4 linked regions of the Homo sapiens genome follow. The protein of the gene in region 2 purifies or fractionates together with the protein of the main gene of each other region. This does not show direct contact. Each region holds a gene or a part of one and is shown on either strand. Other genes may lie near its edges.

What was found.
Region 1: the proteins of EGFL6 (region 2) and ZZEF1 purify together in Homo sapiens (affinity purification with mass spectrometry; 2 studies listed by BioGRID and IntAct, with this or other methods). This does not show direct contact.
Region 3: the proteins of EGFL6 (region 2) and LRP2 purify together in Homo sapiens (affinity purification with mass spectrometry; one large-scale study listed by BioGRID and IntAct). This does not show direct contact.
Region 4: the proteins of EGFL6 (region 2) and SORL1 purify together in Homo sapiens (affinity purification with mass spectrometry; 2 studies listed by BioGRID and IntAct, with this or other methods). This does not show direct contact.

Annotation. Positions count from the first base shown.
Region 1 is NC_000017.11:4,132,541-4,136,699, forward strand, and holds part of ZZEF1 (zinc finger ZZ-type and EF-hand domain-containing protein 1), read right to left. Parts: intron 1-4,159. UniProt on the Homo sapiens protein: Histone H3 reader which may act as a transcriptional coactivator for KLF6 and KLF9 transcription factors.
Region 2 is NC_000023.11:13,628,354-13,631,749, reverse strand, and holds part of EGFL6 (epidermal growth factor-like protein 6 isoform 1 precursor), read right to left. Parts: intron 1-3,396.
Region 3 is NC_000002.12:169,243,519-169,247,677, forward strand, and holds part of LRP2 (low-density lipoprotein receptor-related protein 2 precursor), read right to left. Parts: intron 3,998-4,159; coding exon 3,860-3,997; intron 3,469-3,859; coding exon 3,187-3,468; intron 1,415-3,186; coding exon 1,175-1,414; intron 5-1,174; coding exon 1-4. UniProt on the Homo sapiens protein: Multiligand endocytic receptor. Acts together with CUBN to mediate endocytosis of high-density lipoproteins. Mediates receptor-mediated uptake of polybasic drugs such as aprotinin, aminoglycosides and polymyxin B.
Region 4 is NC_000011.10:121,605,501-121,609,659, reverse strand, and holds part of SORL1 (sortilin-related receptor preproprotein), read right to left. Parts: coding exon 4,089-4,159; intron 2,816-4,088; coding exon 2,703-2,815; intron 2,475-2,702; coding exon 2,370-2,474; intron 1,557-2,369; coding exon 1,484-1,556; intron 1-1,483. UniProt on the Homo sapiens protein: Sorting receptor that directs several proteins to their correct location within the cell. Along with AP-1 complex, involved Golgi apparatus - endosome sorting.

The sequences.
Region 1 (4,159 bases), on a different chromosome or scaffold from region 2:
ACAAAAAATTAGCCGGGCTTGGTGGCAGGCGCCTGTAATCCCAGCACTTTGGGAGGCCAAAGTGGGTGGATCACAAAGTCGGGAGATCGAGACCATCCTGGCTAACACGGTGAAACCCCATCTCTACTAAAAATACAAAAAATTAGCCGGGTGTGGTGGCGGGCGCCTGTAATCCCAGCACTTTGGGAGGCCGAGGCGGGTGGATCACGAAGTCAGGAGATCAAGACCATCCTGGCTAACACGATGAAACCCCGTCTCTACTAAAAATACAAAAAATTAGCCGGGTGTGGTGGCGGGCGCCTGTAGTCCCAGCTACTCGGGAGACTGAGGCAGGAGAATGGCATGAACCTGGGAGGTGGAGCTTGCAGTGAGCTGAGATCACGCCACTGCAGTCCAGCCTGGGCGACAGAGCGAGACTCCATCTCAAAAAAAAAAGTGGAGCAGGTGGGGGAAGAAGGAGGTGGCACAGAGCAGAGCCTCATCTTCCCTGAGGCCCTGCGGTGGGAACGCTACACTACCAGATAATAGCTACTTCCCAAATTGTTCACATTATAGCATACTGAGAAAATAATGATATTTGTAAGACTCAAGGTCTGAGGAGATTAGCACAGCTATCATTCATTCAGTTGGGAACGACACACAGACTTGGAAACTATGAATCAATATTTGGGCACTCGTTAAATGCCAGGCACCGAGCAGAGCATTTTATATACTATAATGTCATTTATTCCTCATAACAGTAACAGTACTATTAACCTCCCCGTCTTATAGTTGTACAGAGAGGTCAGGTACCTTGCCTGAGGTCACACAGCTAGTGTTTGCATCCAAGGCTTCAGGGTTCATGTTCTTCACCACAACTCCCTTCCCCTTCCTTTGACCAGATAACCCCTCGGGTTCCTTACCATCTGAAGACCAAATGCTTAAAACCTCTTAGCTCCATTACTTTCCTCCATCTATAAAAGCTGCTTTCCGCTCCTTTTGTCCAGGTGAACTCCTATCAACTCTAGAAGTGAGACTCACTCCCTCTGAATCTCAAGGTAGCACTCAAGTCCCACTTCCACCAAAACTTCCACAAATCAAGCACTCCCTGCACCTCCAACTTCCCACACAACTCCTGCTGTGTATTGCTAATAAAAATTCTATATAACCAAGGCTATAAAAATACTGACATTTTTGCTATCTTTTTTTTTTTTCTTTTTGAGACAGGGTCTTCATCTACCACCCAGGCTAGAGTGCAGTAGCGTGATCACAGCTCACTGCAGCCTTGACCTCCTAGGTTCAAGCGGTCCTCCCACCTCAGCCTCCTGAGTGGCTGGGACATGCTCAGCTAGTTTTTTATTTTTTTGTAGAAACAAAGTCTCACTATGTTACCCAGACTGGTCTCAAACTCCTGGGGTCAAGCAATCCTCCTGCCTTGGCCTCCCAGACTGCTGGATTTATCGGCATAAGCCACTGTGCCAGGCCATTTTTGCTATTTTTAATAGATTCTATTGATTCATCAATAGTTAATGAATATGATAAAAGGGATTTTCGAATAAAACAAAAACAAATAATTTTGGCTAAGAAAAAAATTACCACAGCTTTGTGAACAGCTTCACCAAATAATTATGTAATTTCCTAACACTCAAAAACTGACTGTCTTAAGAAAAGAAATGTTCAGGTTTGCTACCCAGGAGGCTGAGGTGGGAGGACCGCTTGAACCTAGGAGGTCAAGGCTGCAGTGAGCTGTGATCACACTACTGCACTCTAGCCTGGGTGGTAGATGAAGACCCTGTCTCAAAAAGAAAAAATATATATATATTTATATATATTTATATATATATATTTATATAATATATAATTATTATATAAATACCTGATCCTGTGTTTGGCTCTGTGGATACAAAGATGAATAGGGCACACAGTCCTTTCCCTTCAAAAACCTCACAGCCTAGAAGACAGATCTGTAAACCAACAGCAGCAATGTAATAGGTGTGACAATTACGATACGAGAACTAAGAGTATAAACTATTTACAACAGCCAATGTTAGTGAGCACCAGGCAGAGTTCTAAGCCCTTCACATGGATCAACTTATATTTTCCACAACAACTCTAAAGGTAGGTACTACCTTTTTGCTGGTGACGAACAGAGAGGTTATTTTTTTTAAGGCATATGGTTAGTACACGATGGAGCTTGAATTTGAATCCTGGACTGATTCCAGATGCCACAATTAACCACTATACCATGGGCCAACAGACACTCCAGGGATGAGAAGTCCGAGACAGGGAGGGGCGTTAGGGGAAATGGCCCAGAAAAAAACAACCCTTAAACTGTGCTTTAATGGGTAACTAGGAGTTTGAAAGTATATGGCGAGGGAGAGGCAATCTCAGGTAGAGGAGACAGACTGTCAGCATACATAAAGACTGTATGGCAGATAGTGAGAACTATGACCTGCCTGGTGTGGCTGGAAAGGAACAGGGCAGGTGATGAAGACAGGGCTAGAGGTCAGAATAAAAAGAGCCTGGCAGACCCAGGATGAAGAGCTCAGATATTACAGTAAGGGCACCATGGGGCCACTGGAGACTATTAAGGGTGGAGGGCGCTGATCACCCCAGATCTGCATAAGCTCTCTTATGTGTGGGACCTACAAATCTCTTAAAATATGTGCCTTTGTGCCAGATGCGTTGGCTTACGCCTGTAATCCCAGCACTTCGGGAGCCCAAGGCAGTAGGATTGCTTGAGCCCAGGAGCTCAAGACCAGCCTGGGTAACATGATGAAACCCCATCTCTACTAAAAACAAAAAAATTAGCCTGGCGTAGTGAGGGGCACCTGTAGTCCCAGCTACTCAGGAGGCTGAGGCAGGAGAATTCCTTGAACCTGGGAGGCAAAGGTTGCAGTGAGCTGAAATCACCACTGCACTGCAGCCTGGGCAACAGAGCAAGACTCCATCTTAAAAAAAAAAAGGTGCCTCTGTACAGCCTGAATCCATTCTCCAGTGTCTCTGAGAGCGCTCAGCCACTTTCTGTTACACACATCAGTGATGCTTCCCAGCTCATCTCCTCTGGACAGTTCTGACAGCAGTAACTCTCTTCCTCTAGTGAACTGAAAACCTGCCTCCCCAAAGTTACCATCCCTGGGGCCATTCAGAACACATCTACTCCTTCTGCCCAGAGACAACCTGCAGATCACTGATAACAGCGATCAGGTCCTCGGAGTTCCTGCCAAACCCTTCTCCATTCTTTCCACCAGCTCTCCATTTGCTATGGTCTCAGTCTCATTCCCATCCTGATTGTCACCTTTGGGATCCCTCTAGTTTGTCAATAAACCTCAGAACAAGTGCTTCTCAACTTTTATTGGCTGATCCAGTAAAATACATTTTGCATCATGACCTAGCATACACATAATTGGTATCAAAGTTCCAAGAAACAATGCAATACTTTTTCTCATCAGTTACAATGTACTCTGATATTTTCTCTTTTTTTTTTTTTTTTTGAGACGGTGTCTCGCTGTTGCCAGGCTGGAGTGCAGTGGTGCGATCTCGGCTCACTGCAACCTGTCGCCCAGGTTCAAGCGATTCTCCTGCCTCAGCCTCCCGAGTAGCTGGAACTACAGGCGCGCTTCACCACACTCAGCTAACATGGTGAAACCCCCGTCTCTACTAAAAATACAGAAATTAGCCAGACATGGGGGCAGGTGCCTGTAATCCCAGCTAATCGGGAGGCTGAGGCAGGAGAATCGCTTAAAACTGGGAGGTGGAGGTTGCAGTGAGCCGGTATTGTGCCACTGCATTCCAGCCTGGGCGACAGAGTGAGACTCCGTCTCAAAAAAAAAAAAACAAAGACATTACAGAGGCTAGAATAAACATCTTGAACTACAACCATAGAAAACAGTAACACTGCCAATTACAACACTTATTGAGCACTGAGCAGGTGAGCTGGTTTTATGGGTGAGGCGACTGAGACACTGTGGTCAAGTAGGTTGACCAAAGTCAGCTGGCTTGAGAATGGTGGAACTAGAACTTGCTCACAAGCAGGCTGGCTCGAGGCCCAGTTCCCAAGCTCAGTCTGAAGAACAGCAGAATGAGCAGACTCATAACACGGCAAACCCGCTGATGCCATTACAGGCTAATTACACACCCGTCCAGGTTGCTATGAAAGGGGTCCCTTTTCGGGGGCAGA
Region 2 (3,396 bases):
AGTGGCACAATCTCAGCTCACTGCAACCTCTGCCTTCCAGGCTCAAGTGATTCTTGTGCCTCAGCCTCTGAGTAGCTGGGATTATAGACATGTGCCACCATGCCCAGCTAATTTTTTAAATTTTTTAAATTTTTAGTACAGGGTTTCACCATGTTGGCCAAGCTAGTCTCGAATTCCTGGCCCCAAGTGATCCACCCACCTAGGCCTCCCAAAGTGCTGGAATTACAGGCATGAGCCACTGCGCCCGGCCTGAATGAATGTTTCTTCAATATTGTAATTTAAAAAAAAAAATAGTTCATGTTAATTTTATAATCAGATAAAACACTAGAAATATTTGTTAAATTCAATAATTATGAAAATAATAATAGCTACAATTTATGGAGCACCTATCCAGTAACATTCACTCTAAAGAGAAGTATGTCTCCCATGCCTCCCATAAAGAGCAGACTAGGCCTAGAGGGTTTCTACAATCTTCAATATCCGAAATAAGCAGATTTAGAGGACAACAAAATGATCCTGATTCAAAGATGACAAAAGTTACCCTGGAACAAACATAGAGGGAAAAGAATATTTCATTTGGAACATGGTATTCTTTAAAATAACATGCACATATAGCCTATCAAAATGAAATTCAACAATAGCCTACGCATACTGCAGTTACAGATAAATAAAAATATACATTCATGTGCAAAGTAAAATGTGAAATATAAAAGCACTCATGTTACTGTAGTATGATTATGAATCTTTTCTTATTTTCAAAAAAGTAATTTCCTTTTGTCATTTCTAAACTTTTTAAGCTCAAACTTATATAAATTCAAACTTGTATAAATTGGCATTTTAAAGAAAGACCCTTTAAGAATCATGCTCACAACAATGCCATCATGCAATTATTCACTATCCCCAGCACCATCTCTTTTTTGCTTAATAAAGAATCACAGAATAGTCTTCAGAAATGAAGCAACTTTAGGCTTGCTGTCATCACCATATCCAGTTTTCTCTGGCTCTCCAAAGAAGAGAAACCTCAGGGAACAAATGGAGATGACAAGGGTCTATGACTGCTCAGTACCTGGGCTGCTCTCTTTTGCTCTCAATCTGAGTGCATTTTCTTGAGAACTATTGGAAACAAGTTATTACTAAGCAGCCAGTGATAGCACAACTGGGTATAGAAGTTTCTTTTTCCTCTAGTCTCAGGAGGGAACTGCTTTCAGAAAGATGTTCCTTTTGCACCCAAAGGAACTTTTTTTAAAAAGTAGGGGTGAGCCAAACAGCAGACCCCTCACAGCAGCTGCAATGGGTGGGATAATGAGGGTGGCTATGTCTACATCTTGGCATATGGTGGCTTTTCCAACACTAAGACCCCTGACTGATAACCACTGGATAACTAGAAATAAATGTCCGGATAATTAATTGACATACTAATTTTGTGTTTTTCACTATATTTTTACCTCCTCTATCCCCCCCAAAATTAGGCAGGATTTTAATGTTCTTTTTTATCAAGGAGATTTGGGATATAACAATCAAAAGCAGACTTTTCTGGAAGATGGTCCCTTTCCTGACGTTTGTTACCCACAAGCTTAACTTTCTGAGACTGTGGCTGAAGGTAGAAGGTTAAAAGGAGAAGTGGTGAGGGGAGCCATGAGATTCTCCAGGACTAGGATGCTGTACCACTGCATCTCCCTGGCAGAGCCCTGGGCAGAAAATGGTTGCCTGATGTTCCTATTGAGGCTAGATTCTCAGCAACAAGATTCCAACCCCAGTAAAGGTTTCTGTGTCTGGGCCTGGCATGGAAGTTGAAGAGATGAGTGACTTCAAGGGCCACGTAGGTGCAGAAGATATGGGTATCCATGGCCCCCATGATGAAGTAAAGATGTGTTGCCCCCTTCTTAATGTCTGGACCATTTTTAGCCTTTCAAAAGCACAGGCTACCCTAGGGAGGGGGCCCCTATCCCAACCCTGAATGAGGAAATAGCCAAGATTAAATTTCCCCCCCAGCCTAATGGGATGGGGCTTTGGATTCAGAAATAGTTTGATTTCGAGAAAGCAATGTGACTTACATTGTATGCCCAAGTTTATGCAGCAAGAGTCACATATGTTACAAATGTCCACAGCCAATATGACATTGCTAAACTGGAATATATTCTTTAGACTGGATTAGTCAGCTTCCTTACCCTTCAATATCCCCCCATCAAGATTTCCCCTAGAACTGAAGAATTCAAGGAACAGATGCCTGGGTCTGAGAATGCCTCTTATGAAAGCACTGCTGTGTTCCAGTGTGATTGCTGGCCAGGCTCTTTGGGGGCATGTCTACAGAAATGTGCATTTAAAAAAAAAATCACTGTTTTGCTAGTATACCCTCCCTGCAAGCTACCATGTTATATTAAAAATATTCTCCATCACATGAATTCAGTCAACATGAAAGTGATTATGAATGCTGTGCAGAGGCATGTTTCAATTCTCCAGCAGGGGATATCATCCATATATAGCATGGCTCAGTGCCACAGTCCCCAAACCATGCTGCAAACACAACAAGAAAATACGTGGATTGGATTTGTATTGATTTAAATGTACTGCTATAAGAATAAACTCAAATTAATGCATGTGTCATTCCTAAACAAGCACTGGCTGCTTTTACCTCAGAGGGGAAGAGTGGTTAGGAAATTCATTAACTGGTACCCAACATATACTTTTATTTATAGTCATGTCTCATGACATATTTTAAACAAGATGTTCTGCTTTAATTAAACTATGACATGTAAATGAAAAGATGTTAAATTTGCATTAGTCATCTTTCACAAGCAAAGTATAAATGGAATCCCAATACATGGATCTACTAATTGCTCTTCCTATTATCACCACTTAATGTACCTTTTTCTAGCTTTCACCCTTTTTCCTTCCCACCTTGACCAAACTTTTCATTTGTTTGTTTTTTCGGGGTTTTTTTTGAGATAGAGTTTCACTCTTGTTGCCCAGGCTTGAGTGCAATGGCACGATCTCGGCTCACTGCAACCTCCGCCTCCCGGGTTAAAGCAATTCTCCTGACTCGGCCTTCTGAGTAGCTGGGATTACAGGCTTGCACACCTGGCTAATTTTGTATTTTTAGTAGAGATGGGGTTTCTCCATGTTGGTCAGGCTGGTCTTGAACTCCCAACCTCAGGTGATCTGCCTGTCTCGGCCTCCCAAAGTGTTGGGATTACAGGCGTGAGTCACCTCGTCTGGCCTACCTTGACCAAACTCTTTATAACGTCCACAGTGGCTGCCTTAAGGCTCTGATCCCTTCTCTTTTCATCTTTCTGAAGTGTGACCTTCGACCCTTCCCCTCCAAAGAAAGAACTCTTGCAAAGGTCACTAGCCACCTTCTGATGGGTCAAACTGAATAGACTCTTTGCCATTTTTATT
Region 3 (4,159 bases), on a different chromosome or scaffold from region 2:
GAATCTAATGTCATCCGAAAACAAAACCAACAAGTTTATTTCCTGTGCAACAAGTACCAGAGCCAAACTAAAAATGGCTAAATAGCTACAGAAGTTATCTCAATTGTACATGGGTTCAAAATTCTTTTGAATCAGCCACACTATCAAAGTCAGCTAAGCAAAAGAACTCAAAACTAGGATAGGTTTTAGAATTGAGAATAAAAAGATTACAGGGCAGAGTCAGAAACTGTGATTACACCTTGGAAAATAGACCACATTCAGAAAGTGAGCATCATGTGCTTGGACTTGGACTACATTTCATGAATACTATGAAGTCCATGACTCTAGACCAAAGCCAAGCAATGGAGCCCAATCAGGCAACAAAACCAGCATGACCCACATGCCTAGTAGCAACAGTGTGTAGACAGACCCCCAAAACTGGATTTAAAAGTCTGAACAGAACAATTCTAAAAACCAGGGTCCTACCTTACTGTTAAGACCATAGCCTTGGAGTCGGATGCAGTGGCTGGCCCCACCCACAACATGAAATTATATTAAATACACACTTATAGGGTATGAAAGCTAGAAGGGATCTTAAAGCTCATCTATTCCAAATGATAGTGACTTGCCTAGTCAGGCAACCAGGACTAGAACTTAGCCCAGGGAACTTTGCTCCATCTTAAACTATTATTGAAGACATGAAATAAAACAACAAGCTAAAGGAAAGCAGAACTGGCAAGATGGAAAACAGGTGGATAAGATCAAAGGAAATTTAAATTTTCTGTGCCTCTTTATTTTGATGTCTTTTTGCTTGTACCAAATGAAAAAGAAACATCAATAGCCAAAGGTCTGGATATATCTATATGACTTTTAGTATTGTTTTAAATATATAAATAGATAGCTGAGGGATTTTCACTTTTTCAATTCCTATCTGAATTGAAATGTTTGGCATCAGAGGCAGTCCTTGCTTTGCTTCCATAGAACTCAATATTTGTAGGTGGACTCTAAGAATCCCATGTGCAGGCACGTGCCTTTGTTCTTGTAACCTATTGACACAGAGATTGACAAGTGGAATAGAAGTACTAAAGAGACAATGAAAATTGCATGAGCCTTAGAGGAAAGAATGCAAGGCCATTTGGTTGTTGAAGTCTATTTACGAGGCTGACCAACCAAGGGAAACCAGCTCAAAACTTACTGCAGTTCTTTTCATCAGATCCATCCCCACAATCATTGTCTGTGTCACAGACCCAGTTCTTTGAGATACACTGGTGATTATCACAGGTGTATTGGGTGTCAAGGCAGGAAGCAGGTGCGTGGGTGGGGCAGTTGTGCTCATCACTGCCATCCACACAGTCGTTGCGTTTGTCACAGCGCCAGTGTGCAGGAATGCACTCCCCATGGCCACAGGTGAACGCCGAAGATGAACAGGTATTATCTACAATAGTAACAAACTGGTCATGAAGACATTTGTTTTTACAGCCTTTTAAATGAGTTCTTGCCTTATAAAGGCTCAGTTCACCTTTTTTAATGGAGGCATTGTATATAATAAGGAGAAATGTTCATCAAGTGATGTCATCATCACTAACATCATTATTGGCTGGCATTTATTTGGTATTTATCATAGAAAAGGCATTTTTCTAAGTTATGCACCCACACACATCATATAAGTTCTCTTTAAATCCTCACAAGAATACTATAAAGTACATATAATTGTCTGCATTTTACAGATAAGGAAATTGAGTCTTTGAGAGATTTAGGAACCTGCCTATGATTCACGCTCTGGTTGGATTCACTCTAAAGCTCATCCTTAACTTTCAAGCTGTTACTTCCTCCAACCACAATTTCAAATTCAGACTATAGAAAGCTTGAAAATATGTCATATGAAAAGTGCAAATAGATAAAATATTAAGGTAAAATGCTGTGCTCTTAGAAACAAGAAGATAATACACAAAAAGATGAAAATTTAAAAAATTTCAGAAAAATGTACAAGTGAGCACTTTACTCTTGCAAATCTGTCACTCCTCTTTCTCTCCAAAAGAAAGGTTATTATTAGTATTAACTTCACCTTGATAGAGATTTCTGAGATTTCAACTGTCCTCTATCTTTTTTTTAATTTGAATGTAATACTTTTGCCTTCTGCAATAGTGTTTATTAGGCCCCAAACTATATAGACTAGATTACCGTCAAAAGAAGAATATAAAGGTTAAGACCACCATTTCATTGTTAATTTATTTTACTCTAACATGGGAGAAAAGGAATATAACACATGAGATTTTCCAAAGGCTATGATTGCAAGTAGTTATTCTGTGATACTATTCTCTCGGTTGCTAAATGTTAGGTCTACTTTATTTTTGGTTTTTGTTGTTGTTGTTGTTTGTTTGCTTATTTTTTTGAGGCAGGGCTTCACTCTGTTGCACAGGCTGAAGTACACGGCACAGTCTTGGCTAACTGCAGCCTCAACCTCCCCAGCTCAAACAACTCTCCCACCTCAGCCTCCCAAGTACAAATTTTTGTATTTTACAAATTTTGTGAAAATACAAAATACAAATTAGCTGGGTGTGGTGGCATGTGCCTGTAGTCCTAGCTACTTGTAATTTTGTTTTTTTTGTATTTTGTAATTTTGTATTTTGTAATAGTCCCAGCTATTTGTAATTTTATATACATATTTTTTTCTGAGCTCATCTATTTCTTTTTTATTTATTTATTATTATTATACTTTAAGTTTTAGGGTACATGTGCACAATGTGCAGGTTAGTTACATATGTATACATGTGCCATTTTATATTTTTTGTAGAGACCGGATTTCGTCATGTTTCCCAGGCTGGTCTCAAACTTCTGGACTTAAGCAATCCTCCTGTCTCGGCCTCCGATTACAGGCATGAGCCACCTTGCCTGGTCAGATCTAGTTTATTTCGATTTGACTTTTTGAGGAGTTTGCCAAGACATAATGACTGCATTGGTCCAAACAGCCAATGTCAAGGAAAAAAATTGTTGAAGATAGTCTAAATCAAGGCCAGAAACCATCCATAACATTATGAATGAAATTTCTTGCTTAGCTTCCTAAAAGCCTTCAAAGTGCATGTTAAGAATCTGAAATTCTAAAAGATATTTTTCCCATATAAATAGCCCAAGCTTTTATTTATTTTCTTTAAAGCCCACCTCTACTCTATTCATCCCAGGAAATATCGCCAGTGCATAGCTACTTACTAAGTGTGCCACATAGTTGCTCATCACTGTTATCATGACAATCATCGACTCCATCACAGAGATAGTAATTGGGCACACATCTGCCATTTTTACAGGGGAAGGAAAATAAGCCACACTGCTCTGTGGGTGGTTCATTGGTTGGGTCCCCCTCGCATGTCAAGTGATTGGAAGCCAGCCTCATTCCATAAGGGCACCCACACACTCGCTGGAAATTTGGCACCGGGAAGCAGAAGTGGCTGCAGTCACCGTTAGGATGCGTGGGTTGATTACAGGCGTTAGAACCTGCAAAAGCAAAGCCCCGAGGGAGTCAGTCATGTACATTTTCACTAGGTAGGTCACGGGTTTGATTTGTGAAGGAAAACAAACAGGACAAAACATTTTTCAGACCCAATACTAAAAAGTAGCTTCCTCTTGGAAATCAACCCGCCAAATACAACATTCCATTTAGGTATGGAAAAGTCCCAAAATGTGTTTTTCCTGACAACATGTTTAAGGCTAGCAGCATTGAACAGAGATTTCAAGTCTTACACTCTTAGATTATGTGAACGACAAGAATATAAAACTACCAGGAGCTAGACCTTTAAGTAATAAGTACTTAAAGAGAACAGGAGCCACTGTAACAAATAAATAAACCCATACAAAAAAATAAAAAAAACTGGGCAATCTCACTCACCAGTCTGGATGTTGACATCATACGATTTCAAATGCAGTATGTAAGCAATGCCACTTCGGATAACTGTCATTTCTCCACCATCTGCTTTCCTGACTCGAATAATGGCACCCAGTCTCCAGTCAGTAAAAAATAAATGCTCTGAAAAGAAACATGGGTAGATTAGTATTTTCAGTCACAGCTAACTTATAAATAAATCACTTGAGAAAATGCAATAGGCTTGAAATGCTTCTTGCAAGTACGATCATCTCCCCCATAAATATCTGTAATATGTTTCTCTAACCATTTTCCACGACTTGTTAC
Region 4 (4,159 bases), on a different chromosome or scaffold from region 2:
ACAGATATTTTACAACAAACACTTTTTGGATGTGGCACACAGCTGCCTTCTGTACAAATCCTAGCCCAAATATATGCAAGCAGCTGAGATTCATCAAAATCACAGAAAAGAAGTTAAAGAGAACCAACCATCCACTGAGATTTTCAAATGCAGTTGTGACTTGTGCCTTCGGAATTCAAGGTACATGTATTTGGTTGCTCTTCCAACATCCCTTCTTGGTATGTGTGGTCAGTGTTTTGAAACAGACTTTGTAGAGAGAAGAGATACAACAATAAAAATTCTAGGAGAGTGTGAATTCAGCAGGCTTTCTCTAATACCTGCAAGCATTCAGCTCCAAAGACCATCTGGTGGCACTACGTTTGGCCGCCTTGGGCCCTGATCTCAAAGGCTCCAGATTTTAGAGGGGACTAGATAGTGACTCTCCATGACCCAGAGCCTATTCCTCACAGGCTTAGGTTAAAGTAAAATCTTCCAGTCCTATTGCATGCCACAGTGTCCATCTGGTTTTAATACCTGGAAGTCCAGAAATGCAAGTCCCCAGTGTCAAGGCTAAGGTCAGGAAAACCACTCTGGAAAATGAGTTGTAGTCCATCTCCCAAAGTATGCCAGAACCCTTCATTTAACTGCTTCGATTCACTCAATCATCAATTATTTCCTTAGTCTCTACTAGATGCCCGTGATAGAGTAGAGAAAAACAGACCAGATCTCTGCCCTCATGAGGCACTCGTGCAAGATGCTGAGCCCGCCACCCCCGGCAAGCAGGGCGGTCCAGTAGGCCGCATGTGTCTCAGCCCAGAGAGAAGCGTGGAGCACAGTGGTTAAGAGCACAGGCTTTGGAGTCAGGCAGATCAGGTTCCAGGGCCAGCTCTGTCACTTACTGATTGTGTGGCCTGGGACAAGTGACATAACCTCATTCCAGTTCCTTATCCTTTCTTGTAGTTGTTCTGACTGTTCAATTAGATGAGCTGATGTACGCAAAGCAGTGAACACTCTAGAGTGTCCTGCCCTTGGCAAGCCATCAGTTATTACTAATATCAGCTCTAGTACAAGATAAAAAACCACCTACACACAGTTTGCCAGTGCCACTGGGAGAATAACAAGAGTCAGCATGGTGCTTTCTTTAAAACCCCGTAAGTGAACATGCACAAAATCATCTTCAGCTTTGGTGAGAAGGAAGGACTCCTTCTATTTTAGATATTTTGACTACTCACAAAGGGCTGCGCATGATGGCCTTTGGAAATCCCTTTGTATGTCTGCATTAGAAGAAATGCTCAATACTAGGAGGAAAAAGACACTCAGTCACCCCAAAAAGACTCTATCTAAAGCACTACAGAGACACCCAAAAATGTGCGTGTGTTGGGGAGAAGAAAGTTGTGTGATGTTTTTCTAAACTACGTTTCTCCATTTTCCGGTCATACTGAAAGTCATTTGAAAGGGTTTGTATAATATTTTCTCTAAATCTGCAAATGCTGGGATCATTTACCTTTTCCTTTTATGGTGGTAATGGATTTAGAATCGCTCCAGTTTCCTATTCCACGACTAGTCACCGCAGCCACCTTTTCAAATCAGAGGGTGAATTAATATGAAATAAAGGCAATACACCATACACCATACAGTAAGAATACTGAATGAGCTAAAGGGGTGAGATTTTGGCAGTGAGGCTGGAAAAATTTTATACAGAGTGATCCAGAATATTCAGAGGCCCCAGCATCTGAAATAAGAGGGCAAAAAAGCCAAGGGAAGGAGCTTGGGTAAAGGGCATTATGACAGTCCTGAGATCAGAAAATTTCTATTGATCCACAAATATCAAGGTTCTTCTAAAGGGCAGGTGTATGGGGGGGTGTGTTCATAAATACACACATATACAAAAAGGGTACTGACAAAATTATCAGTGTGAGAGTCATGAATGTGCACACTTAATGGTCTCAGCAAACATGTTGTTCACAAAATCTATCTCTTTCTGCTAAAAATACTAAAAATATATTTCATAAGAACCTCATAAAATCAGTTTAGAAAGACTACTTATCATAGCTCTGCATCATCCTGCAGCTAAAGATAAGCAGGAAAGAGCTGACTGCAAAAGTATAGGAGCTGGAAAGCTAGCAGAATACCGGAGTTAAAAGCAGGGAAAGCGGCATTCCCATAAACGCCCGGTTATCTACAGAAACTCTGATGTCAAGCTCTTTGTGGTGTCCATTTAAGAGACTGAAAGAAACTCTGAGCTCCCCCGTCCCAGGGCAAGAAGTTGGGTATTTTGCAGATTACTAATATGCATCTCACAAAGGTGAGTAGAGAGTTCTCACAAAACAGCAGCAATTTCGCTCAGTTCTAAGACTGCATGGATGGCTGGAATGGATGACGACACTCACTCTGACGGTGTATAGAGTGTTGACCAATAAGTTCTTGATTTCTGTAAAGTTACTAGCAGCCCTCTGGGAGGCCCACATCTTGGAACCACTCCTGCTGTATTCTACCTAAAGGGAGAAGAAAAAAAATGTGAGTAAAGGGAACCAAAGGTCCAGGGCATCCTAATATCTTGCAAGGAGGCTGGAGGAGAGAAAAGATGGTGAGGAGCAAAATGTTCTGACGGATGGGTCATCACCTACAAAGCTAAACCAAATCAACCCCCTCGTCATACAGAATACCCAGAAATCTCCTAGCACCCCCAACACACATACAGCCAACTCATGGAAGGTACTTACAATGTACTCACGGATGAGGCCATGGGTGTGGATGGGAGGAGCCCAGTGGCCTACAATCACACCTTCTGCTTCCCTGGGGAGTGACAGCTGGAGATTTCGAGGGGCATCTGGCACTAGAAAAAGAGTCAACTCAAGGTTAAAACCCATCTGCATAGCAGCCAACCAGAGGAATTTTCCTGGGCTTAGAACAAGGACAAGAACGACTCCACAGCCGGCATTGAGACTATCCACTAGAAAGGCTGCTAGCTTGGTCGTCACATTGAAAAGACACTTTTCCTCTTCTTCCAAAAAGCAAGGTGTGCCGTCCACACATCACATCATGGCTCAGTTGAGTGTGTGGTAAATTTGTGGCTCATAAGGGCTGCAGGATAGAATCACTTGGGCAGGCTGAGTCACCACTGACCCTGAGACTTCCATGCTGAGATCTTAATTGTCAATGACAGCACCTGCTGCCTCTGCTTCTTGTACAACAAAAACTGTACTGTGGGCATGACTACCAAAAAATAAGACTAATTTTGTAACATCACAGAATTTCTATATCCAAATGAATTTGATCATCTTCAAAGCAGGCTCCTTAATGAGTTTAGCGCTAGCATATTCAGGATACTTTAGGCAATGAAAAAAGATGACATTCAAGCAGACAGTTGCTCATGTCAACTACTTTGAAGTAGGGAGGAGGCGAGGAACTCTCTTAGACACATAAATTTGGTAAATTTCTTAAAAACTTAGCCACAAAGCCAGGTGCAGTGGCTCACACCTGTAATCCCAACATTTTGGGAGGCTGAAGTAGGTGGATTGCTTGAGCTCAGTAGCTCAAGACCAGCCTAGGTAACACGGCAAAACCCTTTCTGTACAAAAATACAAAAAGCTAGCTGAGCATGGTGGCACACACCTATAGTCTCAGCTATGCGAGAGGCTGAGGCGGGAGGACCACCTGAGCCTGGGAAGACTGAGGTGGTGAGCAGTGATTGCGCCTCCACTGCACTCCAGTGTGGGTGTCAGAGTGAGACCTTGTCTCCAAAAAGAAAAAAACTTAGCCACAAAATTGCTGATATGCCTCATATTTTAATGACGATGACCTCCTCCTAAGTACCAAGTACTAGGAAATATCTAGAGGAGGAACGTAGAGGTAGAAACTAGACAAAAAATGCAAGAGGGCAATGGTGGAGAGAATCTTAAATTAACTTAAGGTACAAGAACAGTCTCTGATGCAGTAAGAAGAACAGATGTTTGACAACTCTGGCAAGACTATAAAGCTTAGCCACCATACTTCTGTACATGTGAGGCACACATATGTTCCCACATTCCTGAGAATACTCAGAAAGACCCTCACAAACCCCGACCTGAGGTCTTACCCATGCCATAAAAATTAACTGAAACACTTACATCCCTCTGGGGTCCTCAGGGTCACAAAGTCATTGGTGTTGTGTGCCTTGCTGAGACACTGAACCTGTACT